Linked DNA regions of Homo sapiens. The protein of the gene in region 1 interacts with the protein of each later gene in a biochemical or structural test. Each region holds a gene or a part of one and is shown in the gene's direction. Other genes may lie near its edges.

Region 1 (7,030 bases):
GGGGGAAAGAGAGGAGTGAAGCCAAGCAAACCATTGTTCCCTTCCTTGAGAGAGGCAAGCCGGAGTCTGAGAGACTGGCACATGAAATTGATGTGGTCTACCACAGAGAACTCGGGGCTTTTTCTATCACACCACACCAGGTTCCCACCGAATTTGCTTAGGAAGGAAGACAAGATGCGATTGAAATTCCCTGGAATTATCACACACGGTGTGCAACGTACAATTCTTGCCGAACCCAAACTTGGGTTCCCTTGAAAAGTGCAGTGTGTCGGCAGAAAGAGTTGAGGTAGGTGTGGGGAGGAAAAGCCTCGGCACGTACATATTTTTGCAAAATGGCTCAGGTAGCCTTGTTCTTAGAAGTGGCTTAGTGGTCTATGCAAAGCCTGAACACTCACATGCCTCTGCGTTCCTAGAACCACAGGTAAAAATCTCAGCGAGACCGACTCCCTGCTTGTCTTCTCAGCGGTTCAAGTTTACCCCACTGAAGCAGTCTTTCAAAGGGAATTGCCAAGTACAAAGCTGCATGTATAAAGTATGTTCTTCTCTAAGCATCGGCTTGCCGCTCTTTTCAGAAGAATATTTATTAAGACACTTCTTCTGGCTTGACTGAACACTTAAGATCTTAAGACTTCAGGCTTAAGCCACAGAAATTTATTTTCACACAGTTCTGGAGGGAGACTGGAGGTGTGAGATCAAGGTGTCGGCAAGGCTGATTTCTGGTGAGGCCTCTCTCCTTGGTTTTGCAGACAGCTCCCTTCTCCCTGTTTCATCACATGGTTATCCCTCTGTGTGTGTCTGTATCCTAATCTCTTCTTATAAGGATACCAATTGCATTGTATTGGGGCTAGCCTAATGACGTCATTTTAAAACCCTATGTCCAAATAGTGTCAAATTATGAGCACCTTGGGGTTAGGACTTCAATGTATTAATTCTAGGGAGACATACTGCAGTCCCTAACAGTGGGTCTTAGCAAATCTGACCCACCCTGGCCCACAAGGAAACTGTGGGATGGGGCATCCTGGCTGCTCTCTTGGATGTTAAAGAATCAGACTGTAGTTCCTCCTTTGTGAGATGGAGTTTCACATCTGAAACTGCCCACACATTTTGAAACTATAAAAAAAAAAGGTGTGATAAAACTATCTAAACTCACAATCATGCCTTTGCCATTTAGACTTTTTGCACGCTAAGAAACTGTAGAAAATGACGAGTAATTTTGAAATGTTTAAGTGTTAAAAGAGCAAATGGCAGCCGCCCCAAAGAAACCTCCTCTTGGCTCTGCTTTCTTGGGGAGGATTGTCTTTGTACTTCAGACTGACTTTATTAGTGGGGTTTAGGGGGCTGTAGGAGGCCCCACAGCTGCTCACACACCGAGTACAGGGGCATGGAGCAACCAGTAGCAGAAGCACCTTTGGAAACAGCAACTGACCCGATTCTGAATGGCAAGAAGCCTTTCTGAGCTTTTGAAAGCAAATGAGTAGCTGAGACGTTCCTACATTCTCTCAAAATAGATCCGAAAGATGTGCTCAGAAAATATGTAGCCCTTTACTGAGAAATCAAGCCTGGTGAGATGCTGGGACAGAGGACGGCTGCACAGCCGCTGTGCACACACAGACTTTAATAAGGAGCCCAAGGCCTAGAGAGAAGAGTCTGGAGGCATAAGAGCACCTGCTATTAGAGAAAGCAATGGCAGGAGGTCTGTGCAGGGAATGTGCTCAGATGACACAGTGATGGCCTTTTCTTTCTTTTCTTTTTTCTGGCTTTCATCAAATAGCATATAGAACTTCTCTCTTGAGCCTTAGTTTCCTCATCTGCAGAGTAAGGATTGCAATAGTACCTGTTATTAAGGTAGCTGTGTGGACCGAATTAATCTGTGTAAGGTGCTTTGCCCAGCCATATAAAGTAAGCAATAAATCTGAATGGTGGCTATCAATGTTCAGTTATCTAAGAAGGCAGCCAGTCAACCGCTGTCTGCTCTAGGGAGGGAGAGGTCACAATGCCCTGGAGGACATTACAGGAGGCTCCCTGGAGAGAGGGACACAGGAGTTGGGGGAGGGGAAGTTGGGAACAAAGGAAAGAAGGAAGAGTGGTCTAGGCCGAGAGTACAGCCTGGGCAAAGTTAGAGCTGCAGGATCCCACATGGGCATGGACAGCAGTGGGTAACTCAGTCCACCCTAAGGGCTTTTCACCAGCAGGTCAGCCTTCCTTCCCTTGTGGAAAAAGAACGAGAGCCCTTTATGAAATTCAACTTAACAAGTTTTGATTTTAAATATGGAGGCTAGTTGGGGCAGGATGTCATGCTAAGTCTTTGATCTGAACACACAAGGACAACAGAGATGTCTCTTTTCATTGAGACTGCTGGTGTAGCTTTATTTTCTCCAAGGCTCTTCTTAAGGAAAAGGCCATTTTGCCTGTATACCTTTGAGCAGGTTCTCTGGGCCTCTGAGAGACTCCCATTTTCCCTGCTCCTTGGGAACATTTGTAATCATGTACTTTGTCAAAGCCCAGACATGAAGGTAGCTTTGATGGCTTGTCTTGTTGGAGGCAGCAGAGGAGGCCCACACAGGAAACTCAAGCAAATTTTCAGTTTCTCAGGTAACTTCCTAGTGACCTAGATGAGTCAATAGATGTCTTTGTGTCTCATTTGAGTTCTGCAAAATGGGCTAATAATATTCTAGACAAGCTTGCATCTAAATTACCAAGTTCCTGTTGGAAGTCTTTACATGCATCAGAAAGAGGTACCATAAAACACATCACAAATCTTCTTAGCTTAATAACACAAAGCCACTTAAAAATATTTTATTTTCTGTTTAGAAAATAGTTCTCCCATCATTTCACAAATGCAAGATATTTTCCCTCATTTTCGTAATTGCTTTCTCCAACTCCCATTTTTCAAGAAATCTTCAGAAGCTACACTGGTGCCTGAACAGATATTAAAATGTTCAAAGCACTTTTCCCACAACTCTTGTTTCTCGGCCTCCCCTGCTCCTCCCCATCAGATGCCACCAGTCCCCTTCTTTAGCCTTTTTGCTGAGCCTCCAGCCAAGGCAAAGAGGTATGTCTTTCTTGACCTCTTCCCTCTCATAAAATATAATAACTAGGATGTCCTGGAGTGGTAAAAAGGGAGCATTTCCTTTGAGATCTTTGCTGACCGTGAACACAATCAGGGAGTACTTTACGAGAACACAGGCTGGCTCTTGAACACAAAACAGGGCTCAAAACCTCCTGTCACCTTCAACATGCTGGGAGGATAAGCTCAGACACACTGCTCTCACTTGCGCAGGCTTCACTCTTTGTTGGGGAGACACGTGTTATACTCTCTTGGCTCTCTGAATCTCTCTCTTTCTCTCCCTCCCTCATCTTGCAATAACACTGAGTAATGATGCCAGAAAGGAGCCAAGGTGGAGGAATAAACACTAAATCCGAAACATGACGGAAATTATGTATTTTATTGCAGTGACAGAAAGAGTAAGGCCCTTGCTCAGGTTTACCCATGAAAATTATGTTTGGCTGCACGTAGAGAAAAGCTGACCACAGTGGCTTGAGCAGACGGGCAGGAGTTCCAGAGTGAGCAGTCCAGGCTGATACGGTGGGGTGCAGGACACTCCTATGTTTTGGTCCCACCATGCTGAGGCCAGGGAGAGATGGCCTGCACCTCTGATCTGTCCAGGCAGAAAGGACATGGGAGGCCTCAACCCCTTCTTGTGGGTCCTGGTATTTTTATTCAGGAAGGGAAGCCCTTCTCTGCAAACTTTCGCTGACATATTGCTTAGGCCACAACTAGGTCACAGGCCTCTGGCTGGAGGGAACTGAGGACAATGGAGTTGTCACTTTCCAGCCTGGAGAGTGGAGGGAAGCAGAGAGGAAGGTAGCTGGGAGCAGATGTCTCGTGAACCCAGAGCCACATCTGCCAGACCTGGTGACAAAGACAGGCTGTGTGCCTTCCCAGTCATATCTTGTATCATTTGTTTTCTGTGCCAGCTGGGCTTTGGAAACAAATGCAGAGAAACTTTATGTTCTTCCTTCATTCCCTCTTGGAAGTTGCAGATGGATGCCAAGGGTGAATATTTATTGTTGACCCATTGAAAGCAAACTGGACAGGAGAAGGGATGAGGTGGGGGAAGGGGCTAGGTTAAATGGATCCAAGTTCACACCTATTTTCAGTGTCAAAGCCCCAAATCACACTTGAGCGTCTCCTCAAGTTAGAATGAGCAATAGAAAACCAGACAGCCCTGTATCTATGGGAATGTTGCTTGCATCAGAGCCACCACACCTTGCTGTGAGGTTGATCGGTTTCTCGCAGCTGGAAATAGTTGCTTCCCGCCCCCCATCTTCCTCACTCTTTTAAACTCTCAAAAATCCCCCAGCCTCCCAAATTTGTTTTAATTTTTAAGAGAATTCTTTTCTACAAAAGAGGGAAACCTTCTTTCAAATGGCCCTTCATAAATTTCCCTAAAGAGGTTTTTATCTCTGATAGAAATATGAAAAACAGATAACCAGATAATTGCCCTCTATCTAGGCTTTAAACACTTATTCATACATTGAATTTCTGCAAGTTACAGATGATTGTTGCTGTGTGATTACTGGCCCTGTCTATTTCCTCAGCATGGATGCAAATCTTTCTCCCTGAGAAAGTCATTGCTTCGTTAAAAAAAAAAAAAAAAAGAAAGAAAGAAAAAGAAGAAAGAAAGGATGAATGAAAAGAAAGTTGTTATTCAGTTTTTCTCTTGAAATTAGAAATTTCTTTTTGTTTTGCTTTCATTTTGTTTTTCTGCAAGATCGGTGTTCATTTAGAGAATTGTTGATTTTGTATGCAGCACTGCCCTCCCATGCCATGGTCCATATGTGTCCATTTTTTGATGGACTTCTTTTTAAACAATGAGTTCCCCAAGACATTTTTGGGGCCTCAAATGGGAAAGGTCATCACAAATAGAAATCTCAGTTTGCTAGTTGGGCTTGCTCAATCGCTCTGCTGATCTCAGGACTGATGCTGCTTTGCATAAATGCGAAGTTCATGTTAAATTGATTCTAAATCAAATACTCAACGTATTCAGTCTTGAAACATGTCCATTGGGAGAGAGAACTATGCAGCTCCAACATTTTGCAAAGATTCTACTTTGCTTTCTTTGCCAACATCCAACTTTTACTTCTGGGCGTTAGAATACCCTCCGTAGAGACTGTGACTTCTCAAAAGAAACTTTGCTAGTCTCGAATGGAGAATGAAATAATAAGATTTGAGCAATAAATCAAATATAGCCTGAGAGCAACACCACAGAGCAGCCTCTGTCATCTCCTCTCCTTGGGAGGTACGTGGGTCTTGATCAGCTCTCATGTGCTTCTGAAAATGTGTAGGTTTTCATATATATGTTTTTCATTGTTAGTAGATCCTAAAGAAAGACCCAGAAAATCTTGCAGCAGTCAGCTTGCCAGATGGGGGTTATGTTAAAAAGAGCAAACAGAAGTCAGAGCTCTGAACACACCGCAGGGTATTCCATAGTCACATTCCATTGTGGGTGAGTTTTTGTTGTTGGTTTTTTTTTTTTTTTTTTTTTTTGGATGGAGTCTACTAGCTCTGTCACCAGGCTGGAGTGCAGTGGCCCCATCTCAGCTCACTGCAATCTCCGCCTCCCACGTTCAGCCATTCTCCTGCCTCAGCCTCCTGAGTAGCTGGGATTACAGGTGTGTGCCACCACGCCCGGCTAATTTTTGTATTTTTAGTAGAGACAGGTTTTCACCATGTTGGCCAGGATGGTTTCGATCTCCCGACCTCGTGATCTGCCCGCCTCAGCCTCCCAAAATGCTGGGATTACAGGTATGAGCCACTGCACCCGGCCCATCCTAGGTGAGTTTTTTAAGGGAGACAAAAAATGTCAGAGTGGCACTCATTGCTCAAGAGAGAAGCACTTCCCCTTTTACTGTGCAAAATTTTATAATATGTATAGCTATCAATGTTTGTTTCTTATTACTGCCCCAGAATGTGCAAAAGAGAGTTTAGGTCAACTAAGATACATTGGTTTGAGTGCCATTTTTTTCAGGAGCAGTTTTAACACCAACCACAGTTTGCTGCACTTTCTTACACAGCTTCTGTTTGCACTTTGAACTCTGTGCACTGAGCCCCTCATTCCACACCATCTGCAGGCTGCATCTGGGCAGCTTCATCCAGCTCGGTAACAGTCACAGCTGAACTTGACATTCACCCACTTTGAAAGTATAGAATTCATAAAATCTGAAACCACATATGTGTATAAAACCCATGCAAGAGTGGGTAGGAACTAAAAGGAGGAGAAAAAGTAGTCCTCCCCTTCAGGAGTGTTCTCTCTTATCCCAGCCCCTTTCATGTAATGAATGGGTGAATGGGTGAAAATGAAATTATTTAGGCATTGACTGACAGGTAGGAACAGAAACTCAGGCTTCTAGTTTATTATTATTTATTATTATTGAATCTACTGTTTCTAAAGATGAGAATGGCTTTTACTTCCAAAGTTCTAGAGGAGAGGAACAACGTTAAGCAACCTTAAACAAATATTAGCACTGTGAAAGGTGCAGGGTCATATAAAGAAGTAGAAGTGCCGACAATGAAAATTCTATCCAACTGTCAATCATTCCATATCATTACTTCATTTTTTTAAATAAAGGCTGTGTCTCCCATATGCTTCCCTCCAGGTTGTATTCAAAACAAAGAAATAATTGTATTACAGATGTGAATAAATCTGTTTAAAAAATAAGTGAACCCTGAGACATATGAACTATGAGACATTGTTCTATATGATGCTTTGTAAGTTTTATGTGCTGTGTCATAGAGTTATATAGAGTTATGTATATATATAGTTCTGTATAGTTTCAGTTGGCATCTAAAAATTATATAACTTTATTTTTTAAAATCTATAATTATAAATATTTTTAAACTGCTAGAAAGGAAGAGCCGAATATTTGGCTGGAGTGATTTTTAGACATTTCTCTACCTTAGGGCACCAGAGAGGTTCACTTGCCCAGGGTTCCATAGCTGGTTGGTGCCAGAGTCCGAACGAGAAAC
Region 2 (7,941 bases), on another chromosome or scaffold:
AGGTCTCTATTATGACTTGTTAAGAAACAGAATTAAAATAAAGGGAGAGGAAGAAGAAATAAAGAATGTGTGGAAAAGATAGAAAGATACAGAGAAAAAGAAAATTAGACACACAGTCAGAAAGAGAGGAAAATAGAGATACAGCAAGAGACCAAAAGAGAGGTGTGATATCAAAAGACAGAACTTGAGATAGTGACCTACCTCCCTCAGGCACATCCTCCAGAGATAAACCACAGGCACAGGCTCACACATGGAAAATAAAGAGCTGTCAGGAAAATAAGAGCAACACACACCAAGTGAGAATAAGATACAAGCCACACAGACATCATGCTAAGAATACCCTGAGAGTAAGAGAGACATACACACCTAAATGCATACACCAAAAAGAGGGTTATCTCTATCCTGTGGCCTTGAAGATATTGTGATGTTGTGCAGTTTCACAACTATAGGCATACATGAAAAAAAAAAGACCCTTTGTTCCATGTCCTGTAAGCAAAATGAACTTGAAATGAGGTCAAAGCTCCCCCATGTTCACTCTACCAACTCCTGAGAAAGATATGACTTGCACCATTTTGTAGAAAGGCAAATTAAGGAGAGGTAACTGGTATAAATGGTTACTAAATCCTTTCCAGTTTTCTTGCCTTTATTATTGTTCTTCAATGCACCCTGAAGTTAAATGGTATTTTGGCAACCTAGAGTTCCATGTACTGTTAAAAAAAAAAAAAAGTGATTTTTTTAAATGATTGATTAAACTCCTTAGAACACTGACTGCTAATGTGCTTATTAAATAAATAAAATACAATGCACACTATCTCTAGCCAAATGGGACAGCTCCCAGACCCCTCTCATTGTCTCAGGCCCATGACTGGTAAGGCCCTCTCTGCTTGGAGCAATCTCTGGTGCTCTTTTCTGGTACCTCCTTAGCCCTCCCCATCCTTCTACTATCTCCACCCATAAAACAGGACACATATTCAGGTAGAATTTAAGAAACCTGTATTTCCCTCCAAACTAGTTTCACCAAAGTCACTAATGCAACTCTTGTTGCTAAATCCAATTGATGCCTTTCTGCCTTTTTTTTTTTTTTTTTTTTTTTGAGATGGAATTTAGCTCTTGTTGCCTAGGCTAGAGTGCAATGGCACTAGAACTCGGCTCACTGCAACCTCTGCCTCCTGGGTTCAAGCGATTATCCTATCTCAGCCTCCCAAGTAGCTGGGATTACAGGTGCCCACCGCCACGTCTGGCTAATTTTTTTTGTGTTTTTAGTAGAGATGGAGTTTCATCATGTTGGCCAGGCTGGTCTCAAACTCTTGACCTCAGGTGATCTGCCTGCCTCAGCCTCCCAAAGTGCTGGGATTACAGGCGTGAGCCACAGCACCCAGCTGCTTTTCTGCTTTCATCTGACGTGGGCCTCTCAATAGCATGCAGCACTGTTGACCTTGCTGGGATGTTGAGGAATCCCCCGTCCTGGCTGTCCTCCAACTTCTCTGCCCTCTTGTCCATGGGGAGCTCTTTTTCCTCTTCCCATGTCTCAAATACTGGTACTCCCCAGGTTCTGTCACAGATCCTCTCTCCTCCCAGCTCCCATGCTCTCCTTCAGTGACATTTCACTGTTAGGTTTATACCTTGCTGCCACTTGACTGCAGTCACCGGAAGGAAAGGAGACAATTAGTATACTCAGTCTGCCAATTCATGAAGGAAAATCTAAGCTCATTTCAAGAATATTTTTCCGTTATATCATACGAACTTCGCTAGCTCAATTGAATGCATGTTTTGCATCTCATGGATACAGCTTCAGTCATGGTGGTCTGAAGAGAAGGTGGACCTCTGTCTGTATGGCTCCATCTTGTTCCCCTTCCATGGGACTCTATTTCCTTGCCCAAGATTGTTCCCTTCTTATGGGGAGGAGACTACCTGTAAAATGTTTTCGGTTGACACAAGTGATATTCATTTTAAGACTGCCTAGAATCACTCACTGCTAGACAGCAGCTGGGATGGACTTAGAGGCAGTTACTGAACACTGGTCAGTGCTGAATTCAGGGGCAGTCCTATAAAGCAGGGCCTTGCTCCAAGACGCTGCCAATCCAGTTATGAACACAGGGTACCTACACAGAAGACAAGAGTCAGCCATCTAGGGTGCGGGTATGCTGTGGACAACAGAGTGTGAGCAACAGGCAGGAAATGTTCTGTGAGCCTAAGGAAAGATGAGACAAAAGTCAGTGGGGCTGGTCAGAGGGAGGAGTTAGAATAATAATAACTTTTATTGAACCCCTACTATGTGTCTGCCCTCTATATAAAACTCTCTCTCTAATCTAACCCAGCCTCAGAGGCTGTGATGAGGACTATATGAAATGCCTTTTATCGAGTTTGTAGTGTTGTGCTGGACACAAGGGAGCATGCAACAAATTGCAGCTATCATCCATTCAACAAATATGTGTGCAGTACTCACCATGCGTTAGGCAATGCAGTTATTGGACATACAATCCAAAACAAGAAAAACATGGTTTCTGTCCTTACTGAGCTTACAGTCTAGAGACACCTTGTCCAAAATGGTAGCCACTAACCACCCATGGTTATTAAAATTAAAAATTCAGTTCCTCAGTCATACTAGCCACATTTCATGTGCTCCACAGACATAAGTAGCTACACTGCCATTATGGCAGCAAGTTCTAATGGCCAGCACTAGAAAGGGGCAGAGAGACATGCATGTAGGGTATGTATTAACAGGGAGTTACATACCTGTGTGGTGAAGGCTATGATAGAGATTTACAGATGCAAAAGGAGAACATTACTATTGTTCTCCTTCTCATAATCAAAATACAGACACTGAGGCTCAGAGAGGTTAAGCATTTTGACCAAGATCACATAGTTAAGTGGAAGAGCTAGGATTTGAACCTAGGTCTGACTTACTCCCACGCTATCTCGGGCTGTTTTGTGGAGGAGGTGAGCCAGGCACAGGTAGAATCTGCTTAAAGAGAGAAGATGGAGAAGGTACCCCTCTGGGAAAGTGGGTGGGAAAGTGACCGCTTGGGCAAAGGCACAGTGACAGAGATGGGTGAAGCTGGCACTGGGCTACAAGTAAACCAGTTTGGCTAGAGAAGCAGTGACTTGCTGAACTCATGTCCTTAGAAAGCTAAGTCAGGACTCGCCTGCCTTGATGAAAAGCCAAGGCACTCAGCCCCACCTGCAGAGGTTGAGTCCTTAGAGGATGTTAGCCAGGAGCGTGGCATGGCCAGAACCACGTATTATGAAGATGGCAATATTTAGGATGACCTGGGCCAAGACTAAAGTTAAAGATTGCAGGGAGGATAGAAGGGAAGGAGATAAATGACCGGTGTGGAGCAAAAAACACTAGAGTGGGAGCCACGAGACCTATTCCTAAGCTTCAATACTGTGTGACATTGGGCAACAGATTTTACTTCTCTGGACTCCATTTCTTCAACTCTAAAAGGGCAGGGCTGGCCCAGATGACCTCTGAGGTCCTTTTAGCAACAGTAGTCTAGGATTCTGCAAACGTGAATGGCATTAGGTTAAGAGAAGGGATAGGAAGTGTAGCATTGATTATGGGGGCAAGGAAGACCGCAGAGTACAAGATCACACAGAGGAAGGTGTCGTGATGTACCACTAAAAAAGTGTGAAAGAGCTTGCCTTTTTTGGGAAGGACTGAAGGATGGGAACGGAGGATGGAGACCGGAAAGGATAAGAAGTAGTGAGAAAATCACGAGGTTGTTTTTAAGAAAGTTATACAGTGTTAGAGATCATTATTTTACACAGATAGCTTTTCAACTTTTTTAAACCCACGATTCACAGACGGAAATAAAATTGACATCATGGTCCAGTACACTTGTCCAGTACCTATAATCGAAACAAAAGGTTTATGAAACAATAGTTGCCCTTACTAAGGGCAATGGACTCTAATATTTTCTATTGGATTCCATTTCGTTCTTTTTGAAAGCTGGTTGCCTTCCGCTGCATTTATTTTATGATCTATTACTGTGTCACGACCCACAGTTTTAAAAACAGTGCCTAAGAGGAGACTCAACAAGTCTTCCTAAGTTGGAGGGGATGGCAGGGCATCCTATCCAAGCATCCGGGAGGCAGCTGGAGAAGCAAACCTGGAGAGGCTCCCGGCTGGGGAGAGTCTGGAGAGTGTTTAGCGGAAGCCCTGATAGGAGAGAGCGCTGAGAAAAGCGAGGACCCAGAGAGTTGTGAGCTCCCATTCAAGTGATGGAGTGGCGGCCCTCGGGACAGTGTAGACGCGAGGAGGAGAAGATCAGGGTGGCGTGGAAGCCAGACTCCGGCAGGAACCCAGCGACCACCCCGGGGGCTGCATTTCCGCGGCGTGCACGGCAGGGCTTCGGTGCCTCTGACCTCGTGTGGCTTTCCGAAGCTCCTCCACTCACCCGCCCTCCTCCGGAGCACGGCGCGCGCCCACTCCTTCATTCATTCATTCCACTCCTACCTCCGCGAGCGCCAACCGGCTGTGAGATGGGCGAGCCACTTTGCCAGCGTGGGGCTCTCTTTCGGGTCGGTTCCCTCCCCGCCAGCACACGCGCGAACCCTCGCACCTGGGCACACACGCGCGCGCGTGCACACACACACACAAAGTTCTGGGGGCCCCTCTGCAGACCGGCTCGGCTGCGCTGGGCTCGGAGCCGTGCGCCCGCCGGGTCCAGGCCGGCCCTCTCACCCACTACCCGGGGCCCGCCCTGCGCCCAGTCCCCCCGCGCTGCGCGGCAGCCCCTCCCAGCGCGGTCCCCTCGGGCCGCCGGCGCGGCTCTGCCCTTCGGTTCGGCCTTCCCCGCCTCGCATCCGTGCCATCGGCGCTCGATTGCGCGCGGACTCCCTGTGGCTCTCCCGGCCCCGCGCCCCGCCCCCGCCCCCGCCCGCCGCCCCCCTCCGCCAGCAACTTTTGCGGAGCCCCCGCGCCCAGCCATGCTGAGCTGAGCCCCGCCGGCCCTGGCCGCGCGCTGCCCCCGGCTCCCGCCCCTCCGCGGATCCGCTCGGGGGCCGCGGCCGCTCGGCGCCTCGGCCTCGGCCGCTCCGCCCGCCCGGCCGCCCCGAGCCCCGAGCCCCGAGCCCCCCGCGCCGGGCCCGGGCGGCAGCGGCGGCGGCGGCGGCGGCGGCGCGCCCGGCCCCCTCCCCCGGCGCCGGCCACGGGAGGCGGTGATGCGGGCGCGGGCGGCCTCGGCTGCGCCGAGAGCGGAGACACAGGCTCAAGATGGCAGATTCCGACTGAGGCTGGGGGGGCCGAGCTCGCGCGCCGCTTTCCCGTCCCCGTTGCCATGAACCGCGGACACCCCGGCCCCGATGGCCCCCGTGTACGAAGGTAAGGGGCGCCCGGCCCCGCCGACCCCGCGCCCGCCGCCCTCCGCGGCCCCCGCAGCTTTGTTCTGCCCGCGGCCCCGCGCCCGCAGCCCCCGGCGCCTGCCCCAGCCCCCACCCGGGGCCCGAGGGGGCCGCGACCCCCTCCCTCGCCCGGAAGATGACCGGGACCCGGCGCCGGCAGGGTCTTGCTTCCAGGGCGGGGAGAGGGGCCGGGGGCGCAGGAGGGGAGGGGGCGTGTGCGAGGGTGGGCGGCTGCCCGGGGAGGGCAGGGACGCCGGGGAAGGCGGACCGGTGACTGTGCTTTTTATTTATTTGCGATAAATGAAGGTGATGCGGCTTAGCTTCCACCGCCCCCCCACATTACCTTTCGGAGCACCTCCTTTCCACTTCGCTCTCCGCCCCGCGCCCCTTCCCATTTCTTTCCGCGCCCACCCCACGCTCCTTTATTCTCCGCGAGCCTCCGATTTTGGGGGGGCTGTGGAATCGGAATGCACGGGGCTAGGTGGGGAGAGAGGAGAGAGATGAAAAGTCCATGTCAGAGCCAGGCAGAACAATGAAATAGGCGAAAATCTCCCCTCATTAGCGTGTGGAAGGGGACGTGGACTTTGGGTTTTCCAGCCGGGGGAGCGGCGGAGACGTTTTTCTGGCTCGGTCTGGGTCGATCTGTGTTGTGCACCTTCACCTGGCATCGGGGTATTTTTCCCCATTTGACTGCCTTTAGCAAGAAAGAAAAGAACGCAAGGCAGAAAAGCAGTAGGTCTGCCTCGCACACTGTCTTTCGTTTCTCTTCAGTCCGTTCTGTCAGCTTCCAGCCAGAAAGCAACCCAGAATCAACTAAGTTTTTACACTTCGATGTGTTTTTGTGTGCTTGTAGTAGGAGAAATTTTAAACCCAAGTGTGTCTGATTTTTCAGTCGTTTCATCGTGTAAATGTTTGTCTCATGAAATCATTGAAATCGCAGCCTTCACATACTTTTAGCGTGGGTCCCCCGGCTTTCTTTCGGTTTTGTTCAGATATTCTGTGGATGAAATCGCAAATGAGAGGGGACAGGGTTTGTGTGGCACAGAGGAGGGCACGAGGGGGGAATGTAATCCTCCTGTAAATCCGGAGAACAGTTGTGGCCAGTGAGACAGGGAAGGCATTAATAGTTTTATCTCTGTTATAAGAGGCTGATTAAAAAAAAAAAAACTTAAAAGAAAATCTGTTATTAGTTTCAGGGCTCCAAATGAATTAGGTTTCTGGCCGGAATAAAGTTACCAGTCAGGCCCTGGATAACGAGGCTGTAAATAACCTATAGACTGTAAATATTTTTTTTTCAGACTCTCTTAGAAACAAAGGGGCTGTTTAGAAGGCAACAGAGAGATGTTATTCCAGGGGCTTTCCTCTTTGATTCTGAAGAACACAAGGTCCATTTAACCATTCGACAAAACAAAACGAAATTTCTGATCACTCCACCACGCAGAATAGAACATGCCGGTGGACATGTGAACATGCGGGAGAACCCATGTCGGGCGTTCATTGTTCATCTGCGTCTACAGGAGGGGGCTACAGTCAATGCTCCCACTGTCTAGAGTGTTAAAATGAAACAATTTTCTCTTTATTAAGTACCTCCTTGAGACTCCCTCTGCTGGACACTCCCGGTGAGTTGAGAGAAGGAACTTGGCATTGAATTCAGAACTATAGTAAACGGCTGGTTTCCCTGTTACTAGGGACCGGGTATGTGAGTTGGGGTGTATTTTGTCAACTTTGTGGAAAGCCATCTTGGGAACTGCACTGTTCTCCTCCTGCTCCTTTCATTTTAAATCCATATGGAAGGTAGGCCATGCCCCCGAGGCTGAGACTTGGCTCTCCCCGTTCCTGCTACATTGTTCTTCCAGTTCCTTACGCCAGATAAAGAACTGCAGGTGTGTAGGGTGTTACGGTTTAAGAATAATCATGGATCTCAAAAGTCTCATGAACTGTTTTTATTTGCCAGCCTTCCTTCCCTGTCTCAGGTGACCTCCGCGGTGGCCTCTTTCAGCCCTCAGTTTCCCTCCATCTTGTCCGTGTGCCCTCTTCATTGTTCCTGCGCTGTGCACCCTTTTATTCCGGATGTTTATCTGTGCACCTTTATAATTATTTTTCTAATCTTCCTCCCCATCCCACCTCAACTGGCCCACATCAGTCTGCCAAAAGCCCAGATCTGGGTGTTTTTGAAAGAGATTGTTGGACATGCTCTAAAACAGACAGGTGACTTCTAGAATCAAGGATTAGGTTGCTAGGACCCGCATTCACTCACTGTGATGAGTGTGCCAAGACTCTGATGACCTCCTTTCTCCTGCCGTGGTGACATCCTCTGGGTTCAGGAAACCTGATTTTTCCCCTGTCTCAATCAGAGCACATGGACTCCCTGTGTGCATGCTAAACGAGCAGAGCTTTTCCTGTAGATTTCTATAAGAAGAGGGATTCCTTGTGGGTTTTGAGCTCCTAAAGAGTGTGCATGATTCTTCTCAGGAAAAGTATAACGACACGAGAGGGAATTGTTTCAATGGGGTGCTGCTGCACCAAGTTGGAATACCAGGTGAAGGCCCAGATACATTAATGGAGCGTTCTGAACCGCCAGAGATTTAGACAGAA
Region 3 (5,400 bases), on another chromosome or scaffold:
TTAAATTATTTTAAAAGGAAAGCATTATATGTGTAAATCCCTGACACGTGCGGACAGAGAATCAGAAAACCACAAGTTCCGTGTGGCTGATAGTTGGAATGTGAGGAAGAGTGGGAAAAGAAAAGGTGTTCAGAGATAAAATCAATGAGCGGCTTGTTGTGAAGCCACTCTGAAGCGTAAAGGAGTTTAGTGTGATCCTGAAAGCATTTGGGAAGTATATAACAGACTGTTTTATAGAAGGATTTCTGGCCACTGTTCTAATAAAAGAGGTAATTTCTGAGAGACAGGGAGATAGAATAAAGACATGGTGGGCCAGAGAATGGATAGTAGCAACTAGATGAAAAGAGGGACTGATTTGAGAATTACTGTAATGCAGAAATAAGATTATGTGCTGAATAATGGGGTTGTAGGAAGTAGGAGAGCAGGTGATGCTTATGTGTCTGGCATTAGCAACTCCACAAATTATGGTCCCATTTGTTGAAATGGAGAAAGCAAATTTAGGAGCCAGGGAACAGGTGAGTAAGTAGAGCTATCAGTATAGAGTCAGTCACCTATTTTACAATCAAGCTTTCCTCGGTACCACTAAATGTTTTCTGTGACTTCATTCCATTAAGAATAGCCAAGGGGCCAGGAATGGTGACTCAGGCATGTAATCCCAACATTTTGGGAGGCAAAGGCAGGAGGATCATTTGAGGCCTGGAGTTTGAGACCAGCCTGGGCAACTTAGTGAAACCCGTCTTTTAAATTGGTTGGGTGTGGTGGCACACACCTGTTAATCCTAGGTTTTCAGGAAGCTGAAGCAGGAGGATCACTTAGGCCCAGGAGTTCAAGTCTGTAGTGAGCTGTAGTCATGCCACTGTGCTCCTGTGGGCAACAGGGTTTAACCCTGTCTCAAAAAACGGGGGAAAAAAAGACTAACCAAGCTTTTACTTTAATGTCAGTTGTTAACTTGGTCCAAACTGGTCAATGGTAATCTTGTTTATATATTTTAACAGACCTACTAAAAATCATTCATGGCGGCCAGGCGCAGTGGCTCACGCCTGTAATCCCAGCACCTTGGGAGGCCATGGTGGGTGGATCACCCGAGGTCAGGAGTTTGAGACCAGCCTGACCAACATGGTGAAACCCCGTCTCTACTAAAATACAAAAATTAGCCAGGCATGGTGGTGGGCACCTGTAATCTCAGCTGCTCGGGAGGCTGAGACGGGAGAATCGCTTGAACCCAGGAGGCAGTGGTTGCAGTGAGTTGAGATCGTGCCATTGCACTCCAGCCTGGGCAACAAGAGCGAAACTCCATCTCAAAAAAAAAATTCCTGGGCTAATTCGGAGGTTTATGGGTTAAAAAAAGGCAAAAATTGCTTTGTACCTCTTCAGAGGAAGAAAGAATGTAAAAACTGTGGGAAGTAAAAGTAGTTCCATTGCTTTGAATGTGTTTCATTGTATGTGTCACAATTTAAACAAGTTTTCCTTTTTGTTTTGTAGGCAAATCGTACTTGCCCAATTTGCCGAGCTGATGCTTCAGAAGTGCATCGGGATTCAGAATGACCAACCTAAGAAGCACAAATTTAGTTTGGGTGTTCCTCATCACATGTATATACGGACTATCCATTGAACTTAATCTGTGTGGCTTCCAGCCCTCCCTTTACCAAAAGGGTCAATGGACCTTTCTTTGCACTGTGTGACTTAATCAACTATAAAAGCTTACAATTAGTCTTCACAGTTATGGGATTGTTATACTAACCGTGTGATTGGAACTCCAAAGACTTTTTCTTTAGCTTAATTTTGTGTGTGCACTAACATTCCCTGGTTTTTGTGTGATCATTCCGAGTGTTGCTGCAAGATTACAGTGGACGTGATCTTTTAGCATGTGCTTTTATAAAAAGTGGTAGCTACAGATGATATAGCAATCTACCTTATATAGAGCCTTCAGAAACTGTGAGTGGAAATGAATGCGCAGCGTATGACTGTTGGTGATAAGTGTATCTGTGTGAGTGTGTGCAACTACTTGTGTGAGGGCATGGTAGCTAACGTGTGTATGAGATCCTATATACCAGCATGTACCAAGAATGTGTGTGTAGTTTTAATTATGCTGCAATGTATAATCTGGTGTGTTATTTAAACAGCACTAGTACTGTACACTGGTTTTTTTCCCTTGTGTTTGCTGTTGCACACTGATTGCTGAGGGTGCATCAATTACAAGCATTGAATACTCCATCCCCTTCCCTCCCAGTGAATGGAATGAGAAAAGCCTTCTTCCTTTGCTTCAGGCAGCTGTCACCTTCTCTTTATTGGTGGTCCTAAGTGGGTCACTTAAGAAAAAAAAGTGTAACAAATTCTCGCTCCATGAACCTGGTTTTTTTTTATTCTGTTGTGGAAATTTTTAAATCTCCAACTTGCTGTTTCCAAAAAGAAGGTGCAATATCATATATCATCAGTTAGCAATATTAGCATTTCAATCAGTGATTTGAATGTTGATACTTTTTTTTCCTTTACATTTCCAGTAAGTTTCTTACAGAAAGTACCTGTGATTTTTTTTAATGTTTAGATTTGTAGTCTAGTCTATTCTGAAGATATTTGATTAATATATTTCTAAGAAGACCACTAGTCCCATGAAGTCTCACCTTGTTGACTTCCACCAGAACAAAACCTGTTAATTCAGCTTGACTTCTCATATGTGTTCTGTGTTCAAGCTCCTGTGGGCAACTCAATTGTTTTAAGAAAACTCTATTTCTGTTCATATTAATTCACTTGCCAGACTCCAATTCTGAAAGTTGTCTAGTTCTTCCTTCATCACACGTGCTTCTCATCGAAACCCTGGTTTCAGGATGGATCAAGTGCTGTTACAGCTCATGTTCCTTAGACCTGATTTGTTTTGATATTTTACTGCCTTTCCTTTTAATTTTTGTTTGAATGAGAAAAGTTTAATACAACAGGTGTCCAGAATACTTGCAGTATAAATGAAGATTTGGTTTTTGTATAAAAAAATAATGCTGTTAAACAGGAGTTGACCTTCATTTAGTTGATGTAATACATAGCTGTATGGGGTTTTTTTTAGTAAGTTCTTTGAGCATAATTCACTTTAAAGTCATTTTTCCAGCAATGTTTAAATTACTTTCTCATTCTTTTAGTGTATTCAACATTGTCTGCCTCTTCCTGCAGTTGATGTAATTGCTTTGTTTGCAATAGCACAAGCTGCATTATTCCAGTCAGGACTGTGATAACTTGCTGCCAGCCCCACTCAACTTTCAGTTGGCTCTGTGTCAGTTTTCCATTCAGTGTTAACTACTTGTTACTGCCATGCTGCTTGCCCTCCCTTGAAGTGTCTATAAGCTCATCACAGCCTAGAGTTAAGTAAAGTCAATTCACAGAAGCACAATTTTGCCCTTTGCGAGACATTGTTGCCTCTATCTAGTCCTACAAGTAGGGTTTTGCATACTGTGTTTGCCCCTAGGGTTGTCAGTGCATCAGAAATACTTCTAAATAGTGGTAAAAATGCACATGGTTAATGCACATGTTACTTTTAAATCATTAGGATATCCCTCACCTGTTCCTGATGAATAAAAAGTGTGTTAAAGACCAAAATTCTTGGCATAATAATCAGCTACATACAAATCACATATAGTTTAATCTTTTTTAATGAAAAAAAATCATGTTTAAAATGGCAAAAGCCCATCTTATACACTTTTATATAGCTGCAAAAAATTTATATCTGTACAGATCTAACACTACGACACTCAGTATTCATTTTATTGAAGCATGCAAGTAAAGCACTTTTTCTAATTTATATAGAGGTATCTAATTAACACAGCACATTGTACTAATGACTAGGAGTAGCAGCTTTTTCTTCTCTCCCTCTATGAATTCTTATAATGTCCCTTTTTCTGTAAGTTTTTGAGAGGCAATTGGCAATTTAGGAGGCAGCAGGGTCTGTTTTGGTCAAATCTTGAATTTCGTTGTTGCACTCTAGTGACTGATCTTTGGGAATGTCTTGTCTTTGCATGGGGCTCATAGAGATGTGTGCAGACTTGCTTATTGTGGTTAGTGTGTATCAGGAACACACACACAGGTGTTCTGACCAGCTCAGGCTTGCCACAGTGAGCAACTCTGTGGCTAGCAAAAGAGAAGTTTATTTGTGCCCAGCCATTGGTCACCTTGGGTGATGCACCAGATAGCAGGCAGATGTTGGTTCATTGGCCTTCGTCCTCTTTCCTCCTAAAATAATATTGGCTTTACCATCTTAACTCAGCTGTGGGTTTTTTGTGGGTTCTTGTTTGTTTTTTGGCATGAATTGTCATCTTTGGTGTTTTTTTAACCCCCAGCCCCTCAAAAAAATAAGGCCTCCAGGTATCAAGATCTCATATTAGGATTTTCTGTCCTTAATTTTTTGAGCAAAATCTGGAAAATGTGAAAGCATATTTAGATTTTATATACTATCTGAAATGTGATTTGTTAAGATTCTTAAATTTGGGCCTCTTAGAATAATTTTGAATGAGATCTACCGACTCACTTGTGAGAATATTTTTCACAGATTATCTTTGGGCCTTTTCATTAGAAAGCTGTTTGTTTGTCCCCCTGTTGGTACATTTGGTTACCTCATTTTGCCGTTTCAGATTGTGAAAGCTCACAGGGGTGTTTTTTGGAATCATTTGCTGAGTCATTTTCTCAAATCATATTCCATTGTATCAGTTAACATATAGTTTTAAATGTATGTATTATAAATATCTGTAACCAAATCATTTGAAGGCTTGATAAATTTTTAACAAAGTTTGTACATTTTTTATGAAAGTTACTAGTAATGCTTTACTAAGTAGTGCAATGAATTTTTATTTTTAATCCCTGTGCCCAATTTTGGAGTTGAGAGGGTTGTTGGTAATAAATGTATGATGTACACTTAAAACATCTGTTGTGTTTCATGTCACTGTGTTAGGGATGGGGAAGGGTTGTATATGCATGGGGATGGAGAGATAGATAGCAGCAGGAAGATAGAGCTGGGTTGAATTACTGGCTGCCAGATTCTGTATTTCTGCATTTGTGTAAACAACTTAGAAATGCAAAAGTAACTAGCGTTGTAACATATGGTACATATTTATATATTTTATATATATATATATATATATATTTTTTTTTTTTTTTTTTTTTGAGACAGAATCTCACTCTGTCACCCATGCTGGGGTGCTCAATCTCAGCTCACTGTAACCTCTGCAGCCCTGGTTCAAGCGATTCTCCTGCCTCAGTCTCCCAAGTAGCTGGGATCCCGCCACTGTGCCTGGCTAATTTTTGTATTTTTAGTAGAGACAGGGTTTCACCATTTTGGCCAGGCTGGTCTTGAACTCCTGACCTCGTGATCCACCCACCTCAGCCTCCCAAAGTGCTGGGATTATAGGCGTGAGCCACCGCGCC
Region 4 (6,280 bases), on another chromosome or scaffold:
CTCAGGGCAGAAGACCGAAGGCCCACAGCGGATCAGCGCCAAGATCAGCCAGATCCCCCCGGCCAGTGCAATGGACATTGAATTTCAGCAGTCAGTGTCCAAGTCCCAGGTCAAACCTGATTCTGTCACAGCATCGCAGCCTCCATCCAAAGGCCCTCAAGCTCCTGCAGGCTATGCGAACGTGGCCACCCATTCCACGTTGGTACTGACCGCCCAGACATATAATGCCTCTCCTGTGATTTCGTCTGTGAAGGCCGATAGGCCATCCTTGGAGAAGCCCGAGCCCATTCACCTCTCGGTGTCCACGCCTGTCACCCAGGGAGGCACAGTGAAGGTTCTCACCCAGGGGATCAACACACCCCCTGTGCTGGTTCACAACCAGCTGGTCCTCACCCCAAGCATTGTCACCACAAACAAGAAGCTTGCTGACCCCGTCACCCTTAAAATCGAGACCAAGGTCCTTCAGCCGGCCAACCTGGGGTCCACGCTCACGCCCCACCACCCTCCTGCTCTGCCCAGCAAACTGCCTACAGAAGTCAACCATGTCCCCTCGGGGCCCAGCATCCCAGCAGATCGAACTGTCTCCCATTTGGCAGCTGCAAAGCTAGATGCTCATTCTCCTCGACCAAGTGGACCCGGGCCATCCTCATTCCCAAGGGCAAGCCACCCCAGCAGTACTGCATCTACGGCGCTCTCCACCAACGCCACAGTCATGCTGGCTGCAGGCATCCCAGTGCCCCAGTTCATCTCCAGCATCCACCCAGAGCAGTCTGTCATCATGCCACCCCACAGCATCACCCAGACTGTGTCCCTGAGCCACCTCTCCCAGGGCGAGGTGAGAATGAACACTCCCACGCTGCCCAGTATCACCTACAGCATCCGGCCAGAAGCGCTTCACTCTCCTCGGGCTCCGCTGCAGCCCCAGCAAATAGAGGTCAGGGCCCCACAGCGTGCCAGCACCCCGCAGCCAGCCCCAGCTGGTGTGCCTGCACTGGCCTCCCAGCACCCTCCCGAGGAGGAAGTGCATTATCACCTTCCTGTCGCTCGAGCCACAGCCCCTGTGCAGTCAGAGGTACTAGTCATGCAGTCTGAGTACCGACTGCACCCCTATACTGTGCCACGGGATGTGAGGATCATGGTGCATCCACATGTGACGGCAGTCAGCGAGCAGCCCAGGGCCGCGGATGGGGTGGTGAAGGTGCCACCAGCCAGCAAGGCCCCTCAGCAGCCAGGGAAGGAAGCTGCCAAGACACCAGATGCCAAAGCTGCCCCCACCCCCACCCCTGCCCCCGTCCCTGTCCCTGTCCCCCTTCCTGCCCCTGCTCCTGCCCCTCATGGTGAGGCCCGTATCCTCACAGTTACCCCCAGTAACCAACTCCAGGGGCTGCCTCTGACCCCTCCTGTGGTGGTGACCCATGGGGTGCAGATTGTGCACTCCAGCGGGGAGCTGTTTCAAGAGTACCGGTACGGCGACATCCGCACCTACCACCCCCCGGCCCAGCTCACACACACTCAGTTTCCCGCCGCTTCCTCTGTTGGCCTGCCTTCCCGGACCAAGACAGCTGCTCAGGTGAGCCAGCCAGGTATCTCCCCACTGTCTGTTGGGCATGTGCTTGTGGGGCTCAGCAGGCTTTTAAGCCAAGATGTGTGAAAGAAATCAGGGGCCAGGTGTGGTGGCTTATGCCTGTAATCCCAGCACTGTGGGAGGCCCAGATGGGAGGACTGCTTAAGCCCGGGAGTTCGAGACCAGCCTGGGCAACATGGCAAAACCCCATCTCGTACAAAAAAAAAAAATTACAAAAATTAGCCAGGTGTGGTGGCACACACCTGTGGTTTCAGCTACCTGGGAGGCTGAGGTGGGAAAATTGCTTGAGCCCTGGAGGCAGAGGTTGCATTGAACCAAGGTCGTGCCACTAGGCTCCAGTGACAGAGCGAGACCCAGTCTCAAAAAAAAAAAAAGCCGGGCATAGTGGCTCACGCCTGTAATCCCAACACTTTGGGAGGCCAGGGCTGGCAGATCACTTGAGGTCAGGAGTTCAAGACCAGCTTGGCCAACATGGTGAAACTCTGTCCCTACTTAAAGAAAAAGAAATCCGCCTTTTGGTAAAGATAGTGGTTGAGTACAAGTGAACTGGTCAGCTAGTCCCTAAAGATGTTGATCTTTTCATGAGTTTAAAGAGCTTTCTTAGTTCTGAGATGAAAGTATTAGATCACATCATGGGGAGTTCTGCATATGGGGAGGGAGCTCTTGCTGGGTAGCATCAGCAGGAGGCAGGTAATAGGGGATCTCTCCTTACCTGGAACCCCGAAAGCAGCTCCGTTGATTCAGGCTCCTTCTGTGGGCCTGACTTAACGGGAGATGCCACATCTTATCCTTTCCCTGTGGCCCTTTGGGTCATTTGTTGGTCTCAGGGGCTTGTGCACAACAGACTGACTCTGTCCCTTTGCCTTCCTTCCCTACACCAGGGCCCTCCTCCTGAAGGTGAGCCCCTGCAGCCTCCTCAGCCTGTGCAGTCCACACAGCCTGCCCAGCCTGCACCACCCTGCCCGCCCTCCCAGCTCGGTCAGCCCGGCCAGCCACCAAGCAGCAAGATGCCTCAAGTGTCCCAGGAGGCAAAGGGGACCCAGACGGGAGTAGAGCAGCCTCGCCTCCCAGCTGGACCTGCAAACAGGCCACCTGAGCCTCACACCCAGGTTCAGAGGGCACAAGCAGAAACAGGCCCGACTTCCTTCCCCTCCCCTGTGTCTGTCTCCATGAAGCCTGACCTTCCAGTCTCTCTTCCCACTCAGACTGCCCCAAAACAGCCGTTGTTTGTCCCAACAACCTCTGGCCCCAGCACCCCACCAGGACTGGTTCTGCCACACACTGAATTCCAGCCAGCCCCCAAACAAGATTCCTCTCCACACCTGACTTCCCAGAGACCCGTGGATATGGTTCAACTTCTGAAGGTAAGCATGAGCAGGGGCTGCCCTTCCTGGCCCCCAAGTTTTATGCCATGTCAAATGTCCTAAGATTCCCTAGTTAACAGACCCACAAGCTACAGCCTCTGGCTGTGTCCAGCATGGCTCAGCGAGGGGCCATGAGCTCACTTCCTGTTTGTTTCCCTGTGAGCAGAAGTACCCCATCGTGTGGCAGGGCCTGCTGGCCCTCAAGAATGACACAGCTGCTGTGCAGCTCCACTTCGTCTCTGGCAACAACGTCCTGGCCCATCGGTCCCTGCCCCTTTCTGAAGGAGGGCCCCCACTAAGGATCGCCCAGAGGATGCGGCTGGAGGCAACGCAGCTGGAAGGGGTTGCCCGAAGGATGACGGTAAGACTCTCAGGCCCAGGTGAGCAACTGCCCCACCTACAGGGAGGAAGACGTAGGTAGTCCCTGCCAGCCCATCTCCCTGGCCTGTCATGGAAGCATTAACTGTATTCTTGTTGTTGTTGAAACAGTCTCTGTCGCCTGGGCTGGAGTGCAGCGGTGCGATCTCTGTTCATTATAGCCTCTGCCTCCCGGGTTCAAGCCATTCTCTTGCCTCAGCCTCCTGAGTAGCTGGGATTATAGGCACGCACCACCATGGCACCACCATGCCCAGCTAATTTTTTGTATTTTTAGTAGAGATGGGGTTTCACCATGTTGGCCAGGCCAGCCTTGAACTCCTGACCTCAAGTGATCTGGCTGCCTTGGCCTCCCAAAGTGCTGGGATTACAGGCCTGAGCCACTGTGCCTGGCCAGTAACGGTATTCTTGAAGTGAGCAATGAAGGGTCCACTATGCTTCTACTTGGTGGGGGGATGTAAAGTACCTCTAGACCCAGAAACAAGGCTTTACAGTTTTTAAAAATTATTATTTTTTAAATCAGCTTTCTCAGGTTGAAAAAAAGCTTTTTTTTTTTTTTTTTTTCATTCAAATATCAGGGTAGCCTTTAAAGTCATCTCAGAGGTGGGGGTTTTTGTGGACCTGATACTGTGGGTTGGATGTGGGCTGCTGTTTGACTAGGAGGCCCCTGCTCACTGGCAGCTGGCCTCTGCCTCAGGTGGAGACAGATTACTGTCTGCTGCTGGCTCTGCCCTGTGGCCGTGACCAAGAGGATGTTGTGAGCCAGACCGAGTCCCTCAAGGCTGCCTTCATCACTTACCTGCAGGCCAAGCAGGCGGCAGGGATCATCAACGTTCCCAACCCTGGCTCCAATCAGGTCGGTTGTCCTGTGTCCTTCCTTCACATGTACACCCACAGGTGGGGCTGATCAGGGTAGGTGGGCCTACTCATCTGGTGCCCACTAGATCTGGCCCCAGAGGTGGGCAAAGGGGCATTTTGGACAGAAGTCAGTAGAGCACATGGGGCGGGGCGCCATCACCCATCCTGAAGAGAACCCAGGGAACCGCTGAGAACACAGGTTTTCCATGAGTTTAAAGATAGGGCCCCAGGGGGTTCCTGTTTATAGTTTTCTGACACCTGCTAGGTCTTCCAGTAGACATAGTCCTGGCACATTTGCTGGTTGGGGACTGATTTGGCCTGGCTCTTAGCATTGGGCCTCTTCAGGGCTCCCCAATGGAAGTGGAGTTGTGGGGGTGAAGACAGACGGTCCCACTTTGCTCTCTATCCTGTCTCCAGCCTGCCTACGTGCTGCAGATCTTCCCGCCCTGTGAGTTCTCTGAGAGTCACCTGTCCCGCCTGGCCCCTGACCTCCTTGCCAGCATCTCCAACATCTCTCCCCACCTCATGATTGTCATTGCCTCCGTGTGAGCCACTGAGTGGTTATCACCTCAGTGAATCTTCCCAGGGCTCTGCAGTAAAAACAAAGGACAACCCAGCCAAGCAGAGGAAGAAGCTGCCGAAGGGGACAGACTCCACTGCCAGACGGCCAGCCGTTTGCTGTCCTGCCGCCCGGCTCAGTCGGCCAGACTTCCTCTAGGAGTGGTGCTGCTACCTTGTATGTTTACATAATGCTTTAGCCCAAGGACACATCACCAACCCATGGACTCGCAGACACCGGGGCTGGGTTTCTCTTTCCTCTTTTTGGAGAAAAGGAACAGGGCAGTGGAATGAAAATTTTTTGTTTGTTTGTTTTTAAGAAACAAGAAAACAGAACTGCCTTTGCACTAAATTAGTGACTTGGACTTTTGCCCAGTGAAGACAGGCTGTGACACTCTGGATGTCTTGGTGTGTGTAGACACACATTGCAGACTCTTAACGCAGGAAGGACTTCAAACTTCTGCTGAGACCTTGGGGTCAAGGAACATTTCATTGGTTTTTTTTGTCCACCCCCATCTCCCTTGCTCATTTGGATGCGTCACCTTAATTCTCCTGCTGCCACCGTCTTTGATTCACCGGGATGTACAGTTTACAGTTGAAGAGCAAACAGAAAGGTTTTCTCTTGGTGGGATATGCAGAACTTGGGATGTGTGTATATATAAATATATAATATATATAAATATATATAATACTGACTTAAAAAATCAAATCCCCCGACATACGTTTTTTTTAATCTGTGCCAAAAATGTGTTTTCAGAGGAAATCTTATTTTCATATTCAGACTTTGTATTGCCCACTCATTTGTATAAGTGCGCTTCGGTACAGCACGGGTCCTGCTCCCGCGATGTGGAAGTGTCACACGGCACCTGTACAAAAAGACTGGCTAACCCCTCTTCCTATTACCTTGATCTCTTCCCCCAACTTCCTAACACTTATTAATTTATGAAACTGTTTTTCTCAGCGCAGTTTTGTTTTGTGTGTCCATTGGATTACAAACTTTATTAAAAAATATAAAACACACCAAGTGTGAGTGTGATTGTCACTTGGGTGGGAGGACGAACCATGGGTCCTTGGCTTATGGGAACAGTCAGCCCTCATCCCGCTTTTGATCCCCATGCCAAGTCTGTACATGGGAACTGTTTCCCTTCTGCCTCCTAGTCAGTCAGTCCTCCTCCCCAAGGATAATTTTATCTTGTACAAAGGAGATTTTTGTCACGGACACTGAACTTAACCATTTCTCACTCTTGTGGTGTCTTCAGAGTCCTAACTGGTTCTTAGGTAATGTGGAAGGAAGGCACTTCCAATTTTGATACAGAATATAACCACACCCCATGCCATCTCAGAAACATTTTAGCAAGCTTTGGTTTCTTGTCTCTCTCTTGCCCCCTCTTCCCTTCTCCCAGTGTGAAGCAGGCTGACTCCTGCAGAGGCAGTGGCCTCCTGGGGCCCCTGGGGGCTCATTTGATCCCGTCTCTGCCTCCAGACAGGAGAATGGGAGTTGGGGACAGGCTTCCCCTGCAGCTGGATTCTCTAGAAGCTG

What was found.
Region 2: of the proteins of RUNX1 (region 1) and HIPK2, one has a biochemical effect on the other in vitro, tested with the Homo sapiens proteins (one study listed by BioGRID and IntAct).
Region 3: the proteins of RUNX1 (region 1) and RNF38 form a complex in vitro, tested with the Homo sapiens proteins (one study listed by BioGRID).
Region 4: the proteins of RUNX1 (region 1) and SPEN interact in a test that uses a peptide from one of them, tested with the Homo sapiens proteins (one study listed by BioGRID).

What each region holds. Positions count from the first base shown.
Region 1 is NC_000021.9:35,039,293-35,046,322, reverse strand, and holds part of RUNX1 (runt-related transcription factor 1), read left to right. Parts: intron 1-6,896; exon of another isoform or gene 6,897-7,030.
Region 2 is NC_000007.14:139,774,990-139,782,930, reverse strand, and holds the start of HIPK2 (homeodomain-interacting protein kinase 2), read left to right. Parts: upstream 1-4,932; 5' UTR 4,933-5,307; coding exon 5,308-5,326; intron 5,327-6,783; exon of another isoform or gene 6,784-7,941.
Region 3 is NC_000009.12:36,335,897-36,341,296, reverse strand, and holds the end of RNF38 (E3 ubiquitin-protein ligase RNF38), read left to right. Parts: intron 1-1,482; coding exon 1,483-1,545; 3' UTR 1,546-4,897; downstream 4,898-5,400. UniProt on the Homo sapiens protein: Acts as an E3 ubiquitin-protein ligase able to ubiquitinate p53/TP53 which promotes its relocalization to discrete foci associated with PML nuclear bodies. Exhibits preference for UBE2D2 as a E2 enzyme.
Region 4 is NC_000001.11:15,934,697-15,940,976, forward strand, and holds the end of SPEN (msx2-interacting protein), read left to right. Parts: coding exon 1-1,570; intron 1,571-2,466; coding exon 2,467-2,949; intron 2,950-3,115; coding exon 3,116-3,310; intron 3,311-4,021; coding exon 4,022-4,180; intron 4,181-4,599; coding exon 4,600-4,731; 3' UTR 4,732-5,760; downstream 5,761-6,280. UniProt on the Homo sapiens protein: May serve as a nuclear matrix platform that organizes and integrates transcriptional responses. In osteoblasts, supports transcription activation: synergizes with RUNX2 to enhance FGFR2-mediated activation of the osteocalcin FGF-responsive element (OCFRE).